Linked DNA regions of Homo sapiens. The protein of the gene in region 2 purifies or fractionates together with the protein of the main gene of each other region. This does not show direct contact. Each region holds a gene or a part of one and is shown on either strand. Other genes may lie near its edges.

What was found. Proteins that work in one complex are often made in the same cells at the same time.
Region 1: the proteins of H1-8 (region 2) and DDX31 purify together in Homo sapiens (affinity purification with mass spectrometry; one large-scale study listed by BioGRID and IntAct). This does not show direct contact.
Region 3: the proteins of H1-8 (region 2) and RPF1 purify together in Homo sapiens (affinity purification with mass spectrometry; one large-scale study listed by BioGRID and IntAct). This does not show direct contact.
Region 4: the proteins of H1-8 (region 2) and PUM3 purify together in Homo sapiens (affinity purification with mass spectrometry; one large-scale study listed by BioGRID and IntAct). This does not show direct contact.

What each region holds. Positions count from the first base shown.
Region 1 is NC_000009.12:132,592,497-132,594,740, forward strand, and holds the end of DDX31 (ATP-dependent DNA helicase DDX31), read right to left. Parts: 3' UTR 501-2,244; downstream 1-500. UniProt on the Homo sapiens protein: May have DNA helicase activity and RNA helicase activity. Probably have ssDNA and RNA dependent ATPase activity. Plays a role in ribosome biogenesis and TP53/p53 regulation through its interaction with NPM1.
Region 2 is NC_000003.12:129,540,502-129,546,915, reverse strand, and holds the start of H1-8 (histone H1.8), read right to left. Parts: upstream 3,742-6,414; 5' UTR 3,698-3,741; coding exon 3,610-3,697; intron 1-3,609. UniProt on the Homo sapiens protein: May play a key role in the control of gene expression during oogenesis and early embryogenesis, presumably through the perturbation of chromatin structure. Essential for meiotic maturation of germinal vesicle-stage oocytes.
Region 3 is NC_000001.11:84,489,266-84,492,765, forward strand, and holds part of RPF1 (ribosome production factor 1), read left to right. Parts: intron 1-367; coding exon 368-463; intron 464-1,053; coding exon 1,054-1,207; intron 1,208-3,500.
Region 4 is NC_000009.12:2,809,596-2,813,095, forward strand, and holds part of PUM3 (pumilio homolog 3), read right to left. Parts: intron 2,768-3,500; coding exon 2,625-2,767; intron 1,989-2,624; coding exon 1,766-1,988; intron 837-1,765; coding exon 749-836; intron 1-748. UniProt on the Homo sapiens protein: Inhibits the poly(ADP-ribosyl)ation activity of PARP1 and the degradation of PARP1 by CASP3 following genotoxic stress. Binds to double-stranded RNA or DNA without sequence specificity. Involved in development of the eye and of primordial germ cells.

The DNA.
Region 1 (2,244 bases), on a different chromosome or scaffold from region 2:
TTCCCTAAAGTTCTCCTCCCTTCACCCCAGGGGGAAAAGAAAAAAATCAAAATAACCCACTGGGCTTCGTTAAAAAAAAAAAAAAAGTCCTTTACTGAGATTTGGTTGGTTCGTTGCTTCTCTAGAGTGCAAGGGGCTGTCTGCACATCAGCACGGACTTCATCTCTCAGCAAGGGGTCTCTGCCCTTCAGTGCGTGAGAATGAGGCCCGTCAACTGCTAAGGCTGTGGCAAACATGAGGATGTTTTGGTTTCCAAAAAAACATTCTACAAGCCCACTCGGGGGAAACGCTTTTAGGCTGCAACATTCTATTAAATGTCCAAATTCTGTGTGACTCTAAATATGGGAACCAGGCTTATGATATAGAGACATGAGTAAGTTTGGGAAATTTTAAAAAGAGGCATGATTAAACATACACAAAAATTAGAATATGTACAGTGGAATTAGGCTAAAGCTTTGCCTAATTGGTGCCTGAAATGTATAATCTGTCAAGAGCCATAATAGAAGAGAAAGAGATTTATTTTAAGGTTATTTAAATTTAAACAATATTAACCTTAAATCTGCTAAATCCATGTTTCTTTATTAACTGGGGTAATATAGTGATTCTACTTAGAAACAGACCCACATAGCATCTATGGCAAGAAACCCTCACCATAAGAGTTAGCAGATTAAGTGTGTAAGTTTTGATCTTGGAATTATCGTCACTCACACGTTGCATGATTCTAGCACTTCTCTTTCCCCCCAGGGATGCCGAACTCTGCCAATTCGCCCTTTAGTGGAATGAGTACTGGGGGAGAAAAAGTAAGGTTTCTCTTTGATCATCCCCAATCACTGGCATTAATCCTGTTTTTCACACAGCTGGGTTTTGTCTATAAAGTTTGATCCCTCCTTTTCTCATCCAAATCATGTGAACCATTACACATCGAAATAAAAGAAAGGTGGCAGACTTGCCCAACGCCAGGCTGACATGTGCTGCAGGGTTGTTGTTTTTTAATTATTATTGTTAGAAACGTCACCCACAGTCCCTGTTAATTTGTATGTGACAGCCAACTCTGAGAAGGTCCTATTTTTCCACCTGCAGAGGATCCAGTCTCACTAGGCTCCTCCTTGCCCTCACACTGGAGTCTCCGCCAGTGTGGGTGCCCACTGACATTCACCTGTGTCTAGAACGGAGGCAAGGATGCTGACCCCCCGTGGTCCCTGCAGGAAGGCCCACCTTGCCAACTCTCACCACCCTCTCGTGGCCACTCAGACCTTCCAAGGATCTGGGGGGATCTACTGAAGTGGTGCCTCAACACTGGTCCTGGGGAGACCACAGAGGGCGGCACAGTCACTGCAGAGGAGAAGGAAACTGAGAAGGCAAGACACAGTGGAGAGGACAGGAGCGGTGCCCACAGGTGTGGAGGCCTCCAACCCTTTCTCTTCTGGACCCCTCTGCAAGTGCCCAAATCTTACATTTATTGGGAAATCAATATGCTCCAGGGGGCCTCTTTCAAACCTCCCAGAAAACACAATGCAGGGGCAGGGCGGGGTGGGTCGGGGGCGGGGGGCGGGCAGCTGTGGCCTGGGTCACAATACAAAGACCCCCAGACCTTTCTTGAAGACAAGACAGGATTCGATAGGGAAAAAAAGCTTGGGATACTGGTGCCTTTTGACTTCAAAGGCAAATAATAAAAAGCCAACAGTAAATCAATTAGCCCTGAGAGAGTGAGTTTTCAGTGGACATGAAAGAGGGAGCAATGCATGTAAATGCAACCTCGTGTTTCCAGAAGAAAATAAGAGGGACCACGAGCCTGAGAACACATTCGTATTTTTTGACCCAGACCAAAAACTTTTGGTCCTTTTTAACGGTACATTCCTACATTAAGAAAATAATTAGTGATAAATATATTCTCTTTTTGTACAAATTCAATTCCAGTTTTTAACACCCTAATTCACAAAATTCATGCCAATGTATGCGCTGATAGGCTGAAGCCAAGCTGTGAAACTTCAGAACACAGTTAAGGGCAGCAATCAAGCCCGTTCCAGGCTGACGCGCAGGGCGTTCTTACATCACATCCCGGGGTGCCAGCTCAACCCCGGCACGTCAGCACCTGGGTGAAGGGAGTGCCGGGCACTGATGGGATCAATACAAGACACAGACCCCTTCCGTCGGGAGCTGGCTAGTCTCTACAGTGCCCCACACCACTGATTTCTATCAGGCTCCAGGGCCTCCCATGGAGGAGAAGGGCTGTGGCCCCTCTGA
Region 2 (6,414 bases):
ATCTCTCTTTTTAAAGAATGGAGTATTCCTTTAGAAAAACAATCTAAATTGGGTGAATTTCGTAACTGTGGGTTTACAGGACCTCCGGGGGCTATGTGCACATTCTCAGAGGCACCCAGACTGAGAGACTCTCCAGGGCACACAGCCGGGTTTCTTCCACAAATAAGGGGGGAAAGAAAAAGTGGGAGGGGCACCCTATGGACTAAAGGTCCTTAGGAAACCTCTCAACCAAATGCTCATTCCCAGAGCAGGATTTGAACAATCCAACTGGAAAAAGAAAGGCAACAGATAAATGTGAGCACTGGAAGGAAATATCGGATATTAGGGATAATATTGTTTCAAGTGTGCTAATGGTATTACAATTGCTTTTTAAAAGGCTCTTATCTGTTAAAGGTAAATATTATAAAAGATATTTACAGATGAAATGATACATAAATCCAGCATTTGCTTTGAAATAACCCAGCAGATGAAACAAGAGTGTCCACAAGATGGTGACTGTTGGAGCTGGGTGACGGGTACAGTGGAAGGGAGTTACAGACCATTTGGTAGTCTACTTTTGTATCCATTTGAAAGTTTTTTGTTTTGTTTTATGGAGACAGGGTCTCAATCTGTCACCCAAGCTGGAGTGCAGTGCCACAATCATGGCTCACTGCAGCCTTGACCTCTCCAGCTCAAGTGATCCTCTTGCCTCAGTCTCCGAAGTAGCTGGGACCACAGGCACACACCACCACGCCTGGCTAATGTTTGTATTATTATCATTATTATTATTATTATTATTATTATTATTATTATTGTTATTGTTATTTGACACAGGTCTCACTACATTGCTCAGTTTAGTCTCAAACTCCTGAGTTCAAGCTATCTTCCCACCTCAGTCTCCCAAAGTGCTAGGATTACAAGCATGAGCCACCATGCTCGGCCCTGAAAGTTTTCATAATAAAAAGTTACCAAAAAATTCCACTCTTCGGTATATACCTGAGGGAAATGAAAACGCATGTCCACACAAAAATGTACACATGAATGTTCATAGCAGCACTATTCATGTCGGCCCAAAGATGGAACCAGCCCAAACATCCATGATGAATGATTGACAGATGGATGAACAAAATGTGGTCGCTACCCATCCCGTGGAATATTATCCAGCCATACAAAGGAGTGAAGCCCTGGCTACGACATGGAGGAGCCCTGAAACATGCAAAGTGAAAAAAGGCAGTCAGAAAAAGCCACATACTGTCTGATTCCATTTATATGAAATGTCCAGAATAAGAAGTCCATAGATGCAGAAAGCAGATTGGTGGTTGCCAGGGCTGGGGAGTGGGGGTGGAGAGTGACTGCTAATGGGTACTGGTTTTCTTGAAGTGATGAAAATATTCTAAAATTGATTATAGAGATGGATACACAACTCTGAGTATACCAAAAGCCATTGTACACTTTAAAGGGTGAATTGTATTGTATGGGAATTATTTCTCAATAAGGTGTTATAAAATAGTTGCAAATGAAGTGGGATCAAGGGTGGGGGAAGCATGAGAAGTTGTCAGTCACCATGAAATGCATAAAAGGGATTTAAATATGAAACCGGATTTAAATGTGGTGAATGGAAATGTTGATTTCTGATCAATCTGCAGAATTTAAAGACTTAAATTCTGGGCAATATCGTGAGACCTCGACTCTACGAAAATCTTTAAAAATGAGCAGAGTGTGGTGGTGTGTGCCTATAGGCCTAGCTACTTGGGAGGCTGAGGTGGGAAGATTGCTTGAGCCTGGGAAGTGGAGACTGCAGTGAGCTGAGATCACACCACTGCACTCCAGCCTGGGTGACAAAGCAAGACCCTGTCTCAAAAAAAAAAAAAAAATTGGCTATATTAAAATTTTTTTTCAATAGAAAAAAAAAACCATGAAACTCTAGATCTAGAGCAAAATTATAAAGAGACCTAATCACTTCGACCCCTGTTGGGTCCTGGCCATGACGAGCCCAGTGTGGGAATATTCATTTGGGGGCCAAAGGCGTTGAGCTGGTGTAGTCCTGGGTCACTCCCGGGTTCTCGGGAGTTTCATTCTTCCCTCTAGGCCTCAGTCTTCCCATCCGTACAGTGGGGACGGGGGCCTCTAAGGAGGTCTGAGCCCTCCCAGCTGCAGTGCTACAGGGCTTCCCAAGGGTCTTCGCTTGGCCTGACTTCACGAGCAGCTCCAACCCCTCCTCTGCTTCCCCCAGACCATGTCTGTCCCAGAGAGCCACCCCCAGGAGTCCTCCCTCAGGTCTGTTCCCTCTCATCCCAGCCCCTCATTCGGCAGCTATTCCATGCCTGCTGTATACCAGGATGTCCAGAACAGAGCTCAGCCCCCCAAATCTGCCCCTCCTCTCTCTTCCAGGAATGCCCCATGCCCCCACTGCCCATACCTACCCAACATCCAAGCAAGAACTGGGGGCATTCTGGGCCCTTTCCTCCTCACCACACCCACTCGAGGCCTCCCCATAGGCTTTTCTCTCCATATTCTGGCCTCTCCTCTCCAACTCCCCAGCCCCAGCCTCCTCCCCACTGCCTCTTCCCCACCGCATGCATTCTCCTCGCTGTATCTCACACCCCTCACCTCCCTGCTTGAAACCGTCCATGGCTCCCTGTTCAAGATAAAAGTTGACCTAACTGAAGACCGCCTTGGAGGCCCTCCCACTGCTCCCCTAGCACTGCCCCAGCACTTCCCTCCTTCCCAGAAGGAAGATGCAGCTTCCGAGACAAGCTGCTGGTGCGCTGGCCTCTGGGCCTTAGCCCATGCCGTTTCCTCTGCCTGGGCTGCCTCTCTCCTCCCGGTCATGCAGGCTGCTCTCACTCATCCTTCAAGGCTCAAAATGCACCTTGGTTTGGACACCTCTGACTTCCCAGTTAACTCTGCCCTTTTACTTCTCGGCACCTGGACCCCCTCCCTATCTCCCTAGGTGTCTTGGCAAATAGAACACTTCCCCCGGCTGAGGCACACCCATCCTTCAGGGTCACCTCTTCTAGGAAGCTTTCCCTGACCTCCCAGAGTGGGTTAGAGGACTCCTCTGGGCTCCTCCAGCTCTGGATTACCGCCACTGAAGCACACATCACATTAGCAAACAGCAACAAGCCATGGGCCAGGCTTCCCCATCAGACCGGGAGGTCCTCGAGGGAGTGAACTGGGCCTGGTTTGCCTCGGTGCACCCTCATGTCCAGATAAACCCTGAGGTGTTTTTTGGTTGAAAATCGGAATGCCTAGCCCTGCATAAAATGCTCCTGCCCCAGTCCCTCCAACTAGCTGCCCACAGCTGCAGCCTGGCTACGGGCTACGGTCCCAGCAGGAAACGGGCTCCAGCTGGAAGGCCCTGTGGCTCTTCCCTGAGCGAGGCCGGCCCCAGCCCCCAGGCCCTACCTGGCCTTGCTACCTGTAGATCAGCTCTTCAGCCAAAAGGCAGTTGAGCTCAGCAGCTTGGTGCTGGGTGGGTGCTGGGTGAGTGCTGGGTGAGTGCTGGGTGGGTGCTGGGTAGGTGCTGGGGCCAGGCTGGGAAAGAACGAGAAGCAGGGGTGGAGCATCAAAGGCAACCCAGGGAGTGGGCTCGCAGGGATGAGGGAGGAGCTGCCTCCTCTTGCTCACCTGGCTTTTCAGATTCAGGAGACCTGGATGATCCTGCTGTGGAAGTCGAGGAGGGTGAGATGTCGCTGGTGACGCTCCCAGGAGCCATGAGACCGACAGGTGCAGCCAGCAGACCCCTCACCCGGGTGTGAGGCTGCTGGGCCTGCCCACTAGGCTTATATACCAGCAGCCCACCCCCACCACTCCAATCAGCCCTGATTGGGCTGGGAGTGCTCCAAGCTGCTGACTGGGGCTGGAGGTGTGGAATGGGGCACAGCATCCTGCCTTCTGTAGGGAGCCCCAGCTGGACTACCCACTCCTGTGTAAGCTTGGGGGTGTCGCTTGACTTCTCTGGGTCTCAGTCCCCATGGTGCAATGTTGGGAGCTGAGATGCTTGATCTCGCCTGTGCCCTCTGCCCACCAGGGGCTGGAGATGCTGATGAGGAATTGGGGTCACCTGTGTTGTCAGGGAGGCCGCTGAGGCGGCCCTCTAATCCTACCAGGTGGGCAATGGGCTGCCCCACGCCACTGCTGGCCTCAATTTCTCAAAAAGTAGCAGTTGGAGGCAGCCCAACTGCTACTTTTGCCCAGAGCACATGCCCCTCAATCAGAGTAGCCCCTTCTGAGGCCAGCCAGGCTCTCTGGGCCTATGCCCTCCTTTGGTTTTGTTTTTAAAGAAATAAATCAATAACGGAGGATGCTTCACAAAAGTCTTCATAGATAAGGACAACATCCACTGGGACAATGGACAAAGAATATAAACAGGCAATTCACCAGCCTAAAGGGTGAGGAACAGAAACAGGAAAATGGACACTCAACTTCCTTGGCATTTGAGAAAATTCAAATTGAAACAATGGTGAAATACTACTTTTTCCCATCAAATTGACAGACAAAAAAAAAAAACTTTCCAAGCAAACACCCAAGGCCTGGCTAAATCACACCCTTTCTGCAGAATATTCTGCAGCCATCTAAAATGACAAGGTGGGCTGGTGCGGTGGCTCAGGCCTGTAATCCTAGCACTTTGGGAGGCTGAGGTGGGCGGATCACCTGAGGTCAGGAGTTTGAGACCAGCCTGGCCAACATGGTAAAACTTCATCTCTACTAAAAATACAAAATTAGCTGGGCGTGGTGGTGTGCACCTGTAGTCCCAGCTACTTGGGAGGCTGAGGCAGGAGAATCACTTGAACCTGGGAGCTGGAGACTGCAGTGAACCAGGATCGAGCCATTGCACTCCAGCCTGGGCAACAAGAGCGAAACTGTGTCTCAAAAATAAGTAAATAAAAATAAAATAAAATAATATAATATAATATAAAATGACAAGATGGATTAAAACAAGGATGAGAGGCCAGGCATGGTGGCTCATACCTGTAATCCCAGAACTTCGGGAGGCTGAGGCAGGAGGATCGCTTGAGCCCAGGAGTTCAAGACCAGCCTAGGCAAAAAAGTGAAATCCTGTCTCTACCAAAAAATACAAAAATTAGCTGGGCATGGTGGTGTGCACCTGTAGTCCCAGCTACCTGGGAGGCCGAGGCAGGAGGATTGCTTGAGCCTGGGAGGTCAAGGCTGCAGGGAGCTGTGATCACACCCCTGCACTCCAGCCTGGGCTACAGAGTAAGACCCTGCCCCCCCCAAAAAAAAGGGGGAGGGAAAGAAAAGAAAACAAACAAGAATGAGGCTGTATTTCACACTCAGCAAAATGACAAAGATGTAAGTGTCTATCAATAGTGAGTGACTAGGATTCAAGGAAAGTATAGCTGCTGGGGGGTGGGGAGTGAGCTGGTAGCCGCCTTAGAAAGCAATTCAGCGATGTTTCATACAACTAAGGAGGGACTCACTCCACAACCCACCTATTCCACTCTAGGCGTAGATCTGAGACAAACATATACACTTACGTGCAAAGATGTTTATTTCAATCTTAGCAGAAATTCAAAACAACATAAATGCCCATCAGGTGGAGAGTGAACAAGTAAACTGTGGCCTATTCGCACAGTGGAGTAGTATGCAGTAGTGAAAAGGAGTGAACCAGAATGTATCGGAGAGTACACCCCAACTACTGAGAAGACAAAACTTGCGTGTGTGTGTGTGTGTGTGTGTGTGTGTGTGAAGGCACAATAGTTCTTTTTAATTTTTAAAAAATTTTTTTGTTTTTTTATCTTACCAGTCACAAGCAGTAGAAAAAAGTTCTGAATGGATTCATACCAAGGTAATAGTAGAAGTGGTTACCTCTGAGGAAGGGATGGGTTTTAAACAGCATACATTCTTCTCTAGGTAGTCTCTTTATTGTGGAATTTTCCCAGAGGGCTCTCCATCACCAGAGATCTGGACTCGGGGAGGCTGTGGTCATCAAAGTGTTCTAAAGTGAAGTCAGATTTCACTCCCCCGCTTAGCATCCTGCATGGCTCCCCACTGCCCGTGGGTGAAAGTTCATGCTCTTCAGTCTGACTTAAGGAGCCTCCTCCCCGCTTGAATCCCACAATTCACCCACACTGCGGCTCCTGGAATGGGCCATGTGCTGATATCGGGCCCCTTTTGTCTCCTCTGTGTGTGTTGAATTGATGCAGAACTGCCCCCAATTTTTCACTCCTGCCCATTTGCAATGTAACTTTGCAACCCCTCTCACATTTCTTGTTTGTTTGTTTGTTTTTTGAGACAGGGTTCCACTCTGTCGCCCAGGCTGGAGTGCAGTGGTGCAATCATAGCTCACTGCAGCCTCGACCTTCTGGGCTCAAGTGATCTCCTACTTCAGTCTTCCAAGTGGCTAGGACTCAGGCACATGCCACTATGCCTGGCTAATTAAAAAAAAAATATATATATATATATATATAT
Region 3 (3,500 bases), on a different chromosome or scaffold from region 2:
CTCGTAATTTCATTAGTTTTTTTTGGTTCTTTTTTTGTTTGTTTGTTTTGTTTTTTTTGTGGTTATTGTTTTTACTAACCAAGTTGATGAGGGAAATGAAAGTAGTTCAAGAGTAAACACATCTCAGTTTCTGCCCTGAAGTGATTTCTGACAATTTTATTCAGTTTTGTACTTGTATTTTACACAGGAGAAATCCACTCATCCATTCTCTTCACGTGTCCATTAATGTCAGTCCTTCCTAGTCTGTCTTTAAAGCCCCTATCAGCTAGATACTCAGTGTCCAACAGTCCTGCTGATGCTACTTTTAGAATTCTGGCCCAGTAGAGTATTTCTTTGATGTAAAATTATTCCTCTTCTCTGTTCTCAGGTCGCTTATGATGAAGCTACAGATGAATTTGCTTCTTACTTCAACAAACAGACTTCTCCCAAGATTCTCATCACAACATCAGATAGACCTCATGGGGTAAACACATTGATTAATTTAGTTCTTGAATTCTTAATTTTCTTATTACTTCTATTTAAAGTACTCTGTTCAGAAGAGTTAAACCATTAGTTAATTGCCTTAAAGAATGCCTGTGACTAAGTAAATAAAACGTAGCTCTGGTAATATGATGTAGGTTTACTAAACATGATTCTTCAAGATAGGATTTCTCAACCTCAACATTGTTAACATTTTAGCTGGAGAATTCTTTGTTATGGTGAGCTATCCTGTTCATTACAGGATGTTTAGCAGCTTCCCTGGCCTCTATGCTTTAGGTGCCAGTAGCAACCACACACCACTACCACTACCATCAGTCATAACCATCAAAAATGTCTCCAGACATTGCCAAATGTGTCCTCTGATGGAGCAGAATCGCCCCTAATTGAGAACCACTGCTTTAGGATGATCAGCCTTTGATAAAAGAGGACACACTGTTCGAGTTTCATGCTTTCCTCAATGTTGCTTTCTATTAATCATAATAATTATTATTTCTTTCCTTATGAATATGTACCACATAAGATTTTTATTCTTTTTTGAAAACTATTCAAAATTTTTGTTATTTTGTTTTGCAGAGAACAGTACGACTCTGTGAACAGCTCTCCACAGTTATACCAAACTCACATGTTTATTACAGAAGAGGACTGGCTCTGAAAAAAATTATTCCACAGTGCATCGCAAGAGATTTCACAGACCTGATTGTTATTAATGAAGATCGTAAAACCCCAAGTATCCTTTTTTTTTTTAAGGAGGTTTTCCTGTCCTCTCCCTCACCCCCCTTAAAAATATATTTAAAAGAATAAGGAAATATTGCCTATAACTTTCAGAAAATAATTTTTTTATCAGAAAATTGTATCTCTTTCCAAGAGTCTATAAACTGATTTTTCCTTTGTATTCACCAAACATTTATCAGGCACATGCTACAGCCAAGAGATTGTTGTAACTCTTAGTAAAAGATGCAGAGCTAAAACAAGAGACAACCAGGAAATTCATAGGTGGAGTAAATGGATATGTAAACTGACAAAATATAGTGTGGATGGTACAATTAAATAGAGAAATGCAGGATATAGTGGGGACCCTGTGACTGGTACAAAGTCTGCCCTGGGAGGAAAGACTTCCCATAGAAAGAGATGCTGAAGCTGGATCTAGATGGATGAGGGTGAAGGAGGGGAATAAGGCAGAGAAAAGCGCTCAGTGCAGAGGGACTACCATTTGGAAAGAGAGGAAGGAAAGGGCTGACCTAGTTGGGGATCTGCATATGGTTTGTTGTGGCTAGATTTTACATTGCCAGAGGTGGTATCACAGGATTAAGTTTTTGAGGTAGAGACTTGGGCCCATGTTATGTGTGTGTTCCAGTCTAAAACTTTTTCTGTGAGTCTCAGACCTGAGATGAATGTGTCACCTGAACCCAAGGTATTTCTTCCTGTTGAGATAAGAGATTTGATAAAGGATATCTAGGTTTGTTATTATTGTTGCTGTTTTATTTATTTATTTATTGAATGATGGCTATGAGTTCAGTAACCTTAAAGATGACCAATTGAATGAGTCATCTTTATGATTTTTAATTTCATTAAAATAAAATTATAAAGAATTTACAAAATAGGGACAAGACTTTCTGTGCTGCCAGAATAACATTTTATTTCTAATATCAGTGAACACTCTATTAGTGGTTTAAAAGGCTGTTTTTAAAAAATCTAACTTTTATGACTTTAATTGTTATCAATATAACTTACTTTATCCACTTGTACTAGTAGCTTTCCAGAAACTACTATAACAAGCTTTGTAATGTGTTTTGTTGGCCATATTATAATTTGGCTTAACTGGATTAATGTACCAAAATATCTAAAATCTCTTGAATACTTAACTACTCCAGAAAAAAATTATTTTTAAGGTAGTTGCTGCCTCTTTTTCTTTTTTTAAACTGCCTCCACAAAGTGGCAAGGTCTGTTTTCCTCTTTTTATTTTTGGCAGTTAAAAAACAACTGTCATCACTTTGAGGCCACTAGTAACTCTGCTAAGAAGCAGGCATTCATCAATTCAATAAATGTTCTATCCCTGTTTTATCCAGGGTGTTTTATATAGTCACACAAATTTCACTTATACCATCTATTGCCTTTAAAAAGTTTACATTTTCTGGCCGGATGCGGTGGCTCACACCTGTAGTCCCAGCACTTTGGGAGGCCTAGGCCAGCAGATTGCTTGAGGTCAGGAGTTTGAGACCAGCCTAGCCAACACAGCAAAATCCCATCTCTACTAAAAATACAAAAATTAGTTGGGCGTGTTGGTGCATGCCTGTAATCCCACCTACTTGGGAGGCTGATGCACTAGAATTACTTGAACCCGGGAGGCAAAGGTTGCCATGAGCAGAGATGGTGCCACTGCACTCCAGCCTGGGTGACAGGGCAAGACTCTGTCAAAAAAAAAAAAATGGTGATTATCCTAGAGACTTAGCATGGGTTCAGGAATAAAAATCACAACTCCTAATGGTGACACATGGGGGGAAAGTTGAAAAAACAGGATTTAGCCTGTGGGAAAGTAGATTCTAGGAACATGGCGTCTTTCTAAAGACCATTGGAGGGGCTACTGTGTGGAAGAGTAGTGCTGAATGGTGAAAGTTAAAGGGATATACTTTTTTGACTTATTCTAAAATAGAATTTCATCAGCTGTCTAAACTGTAGAAACCTAGTAGTGGCTTTGAGTCAGGGCAGCTGTGATATCAAATACAGATTCCATTATTTTCTAGTTTTGTGATTTTAGTCACGTTTCTTAGCCACTCAATTTCCTCGTTTTTTAAATGTGGGAAATAATACCTATCTTTAGAGTTCCCACAAAGATCACATTAAATGTATTATGTTTATAAAGCATAGTGTCTGGCACATGGTAGGCATTTTAGTAAACGTGGTATAGTGAGAAGCATGTAAACTTTATCTGTACAGACCTACATCCTCTATTCATTATTTCTAAATGGGGAACTACTGTTATTTGAGGTAGGGTAATTATTTGTGCTACACTCTTGGCAGCT
Region 4 (3,500 bases), on a different chromosome or scaffold from region 2:
CTGTCACTTTTTTCCAGACATTGTAATGAAAAGCCCAAACTGTTTTAACTCAGTAGGGGAAAAAAATCTCTCCAGTGGTTTAAATACCAGATGGAATTTGGATTTTGTAAGTGAAGGTCTGGTTGGAGATAGGACTGAGAGGGGAATGGCATGCAAATGCTAATGCTGTCCTTCTCTAGAGAGCTGAGTTTCTACAGAGCAGCTGTAAGGCTTACAAAAAACCAGAAAGCGCCAAAGACTGGCTTACTCTTTGGTCACATGTATTTCAATGCCAAATAAACAGGCACTAGTCCAAAACTCTCTTACGAGGATAATCTTCTTCTGCTTATTCTTTCTTCAAACATAGAGATAAATGTCATGCCTTTCTACTGAGGTAATGATACTCAACAATTGGGGCCCCCTACCCCCTCTCACCATCCTCATTAGAATGGCATTTTAAGGCATTGACCAAGCCAGGTTAGAAGCCTGCAGCAGCACAGGAAGGAAAACAGAGAGAGTGAGGGGGCGGTGGGGGGGGCTGGCGGGGGGGGTTTGGAAAAAAGAAAATTAAAAGAGTTCTCAGGCACAAATATTTCTAGGGGAAAAAGCATTACCAGCAACCACTGAATCATTTCTTATTCACAGACACCATTTCTAGACACTTGGCAAACTTCATTTGAGCTTAAATGGCTGGTATAAAGTTCAGGGATGCCAGGAATTACTGGAATTCCACATGAGATACAAGAAAAGGTCAAATTTCATAGCCTACCTTCTCTCCCATTTTCTTTCATCTTTTTATCTTGCTCTATTAACCACTTCAGAACTAGATGTCCTGCAGGATGTTCTGCAATGTGAAGCTATGAAGGGTCAAGAACAGTTAATTTTAAAAGTTGTTTTCATTCATACAAATACATTTGAATGAATACATACTATTTATGCCACCACATACAGATAAGGACTCAGCCACTTTTAAAGTTCCACAGGCTTAAGAGGTCTTTATCTAGGACAACCATCATACTTGGGGGGACCACAGATCTATTCTGATCCCCAGACTGAAAGACAGTTATGCCAGATAACACAGCCACGGCACAGCGCTTCAGTCTCCGCTTCATTTAATCTGCTCTGAACAGTAGCAGCACAAGGCTCATCTTAATGCTAATCACGTCTTGGATTGAAATATGTCATTCTCAGACACAAATAAACCTACAGGACAGAACACTATAGCACAAACATCAAAACCCAATGCTGCATGCTGTTTAAGTACACATGACCACCGAAGGGGATTATCTGATGAGCGAATCAAGAAAGCATCTTTTCAGCTCAACCTTACTCCTCTTCAAGAGCAATACCAAGCGTTCCCAGTTATTTGGGCTACTCCTTAGCAAGTATGGGAGGCAACCGGCTCAGTCTCCTTATAGAGAAACTTTCAAGGTACATTCATCTTTCCCATTTGTTAATATGGTCAGGAGCCAGGGCTTCTCTAAGATCCATGGCCCACTTCTCTTCCCCAATCGCAGGTGTCAGAAGCACCTTGGGCACTCAATACTTGGCAATGATTTCATTCATAAGCAAATTCACATCTGTAAAACATTCCCAAGTACCAGGCTTTGACCCAGATGGTTAGAGAAAATTAAAGATGAATGTAATTGCTGCTGTGAGAGGTTCTTGGTTGTTTATTCAACAGGTATCTCCCTCCCCAGCTTTCTTACTGACACCCCACATCGTCCAAAAACGAAGTTTTTGTGGCCTTTGCAGCTTTCCTGCCTGTGCTTTAATGGCACATTACCTCTCCGTCCTTGCCACCAGGATGCAGTCCTGTTGCTGCCAAGCTGGCGATGGCATTCATGGTAGGCTGAACGTCTCCAGTGGCAGATCCCAGAATGTCAGACACCAACACACACGCAGACTTATCTAGCACCACTTCTTGGGCGTGTTCTTGCAGGTAGCTTAACAAAGCTGGAGAAATGGATTCTAGGAGCTCCCGTCTGCGGACCTCTGTATCTTTCTTACTGTTGAGTATGTTGAACGGGGTATTAAGGTAAGATAAATCGCAAAGGAAATGTGGTGATATTATCACAAAAACCTCTAAGAGCTTATCACAGACTGTATCGCACTCTATTATTATTGTCTATCTTTCTGTTAAGCATGTAGACAATAAGTGATACGAGTATGTGTTCTGTTTTTAAAAATGTTTGTGTCCCACGATCTGAATAGTGCCTGGCACAGAACAAGGGCTCAATAAAGGGAGTCTGACTTGTGTAATACCAAAAAAAAAAAAAAAAAAATCCAAAAACCAAATAACATACCCAGAAAACAACACATTTACACTGCTGTATGGACACCATACTCTAGGGTACTCAAATATGTGGTATCGGTAGCTTTGAAAATAAAGCAAAATAAAAGCCAAACCACGCACTTGAATGCCTACTATGTGCCAGGTGCTCAGGTGTTCTTTTGGCACGACACTTTTATTTCCTTGTCAAGATAAAAACTTTAGAATCTGTCAAAAATATAGGCTTGAAAATGGAATTCACCTTTTCAGCAGTTTTAGAGAGGGTATGGATGGGTAAGTGGACTTCTGGAAGAATGCACTACTCAACATTAACAGAGGAATAAAGAAGTCAAGCCATTCTACTTGGTTTTACCTGTGTGCATTTCCATCTCCTTTTTGCAGAACTTCAATGATTTCTCGTACTGTATGTGCAGGATCTCTGGGGCTTAGTAAGTACAATAGGACCTTCCTTCCATATTTGTCATTTACTATGCTAGGCAATGAACTGATAATTTCCTATAAAATTATAAACAAAAAAAAAGAATCAATATCTGCATTCTCAAAACAAAGTACCACAGGACCTTTCTTCCATATTTGCCATTTACTATGCTAAGCAAGGAACTGATAATTTCCTATAAAATTATAGTATATGTGCTGCCAAAGTGAGCACAATGTCCTATAAAATTATAAACAACAACAAAAAAATGAATTGATATCTACATTCTTAAAATAAAGTATGCCTAGAATTTCAATGGTGAAGAATACATACTTAACTACTATTTTTCCCAGCGTACTTCATGGAAAATGTGGAGCTAGTTCTGAAATTGTGTCATTAAAGCACACAGAGATTTACATTTAGAACACAGAATCAATTCTCTTTTGTGACTAGCATTACTGAACAACTCATTTGTATTAACTGACCAAGCCCAAGGACTTAAAAAATATTTAAAGGTGTTATCTTCATTCATTATGGCCAGTATTTCTTGGGCCACTATTACTAGGGACATCACTTGCTGAGGTCACTGAGTAGAGGCAGTTAACTTGCAGCTGCATTTAAATGTAGCACCGGCATGAATGAAGAACACTTCTATTAGAATTTCCCTGCTGAGATGTATGTGAAAGGAGATAAAGAAACTCTGTTAAATCGAACAAGTGGATAAAGGCTTTTAAAGTTAGGTTGCTTATTCATGGCAAATGAAGGCTGTTTAGCTACCGCAATGAAAAACAAAAACAGAAGAGGAGGGGAAAC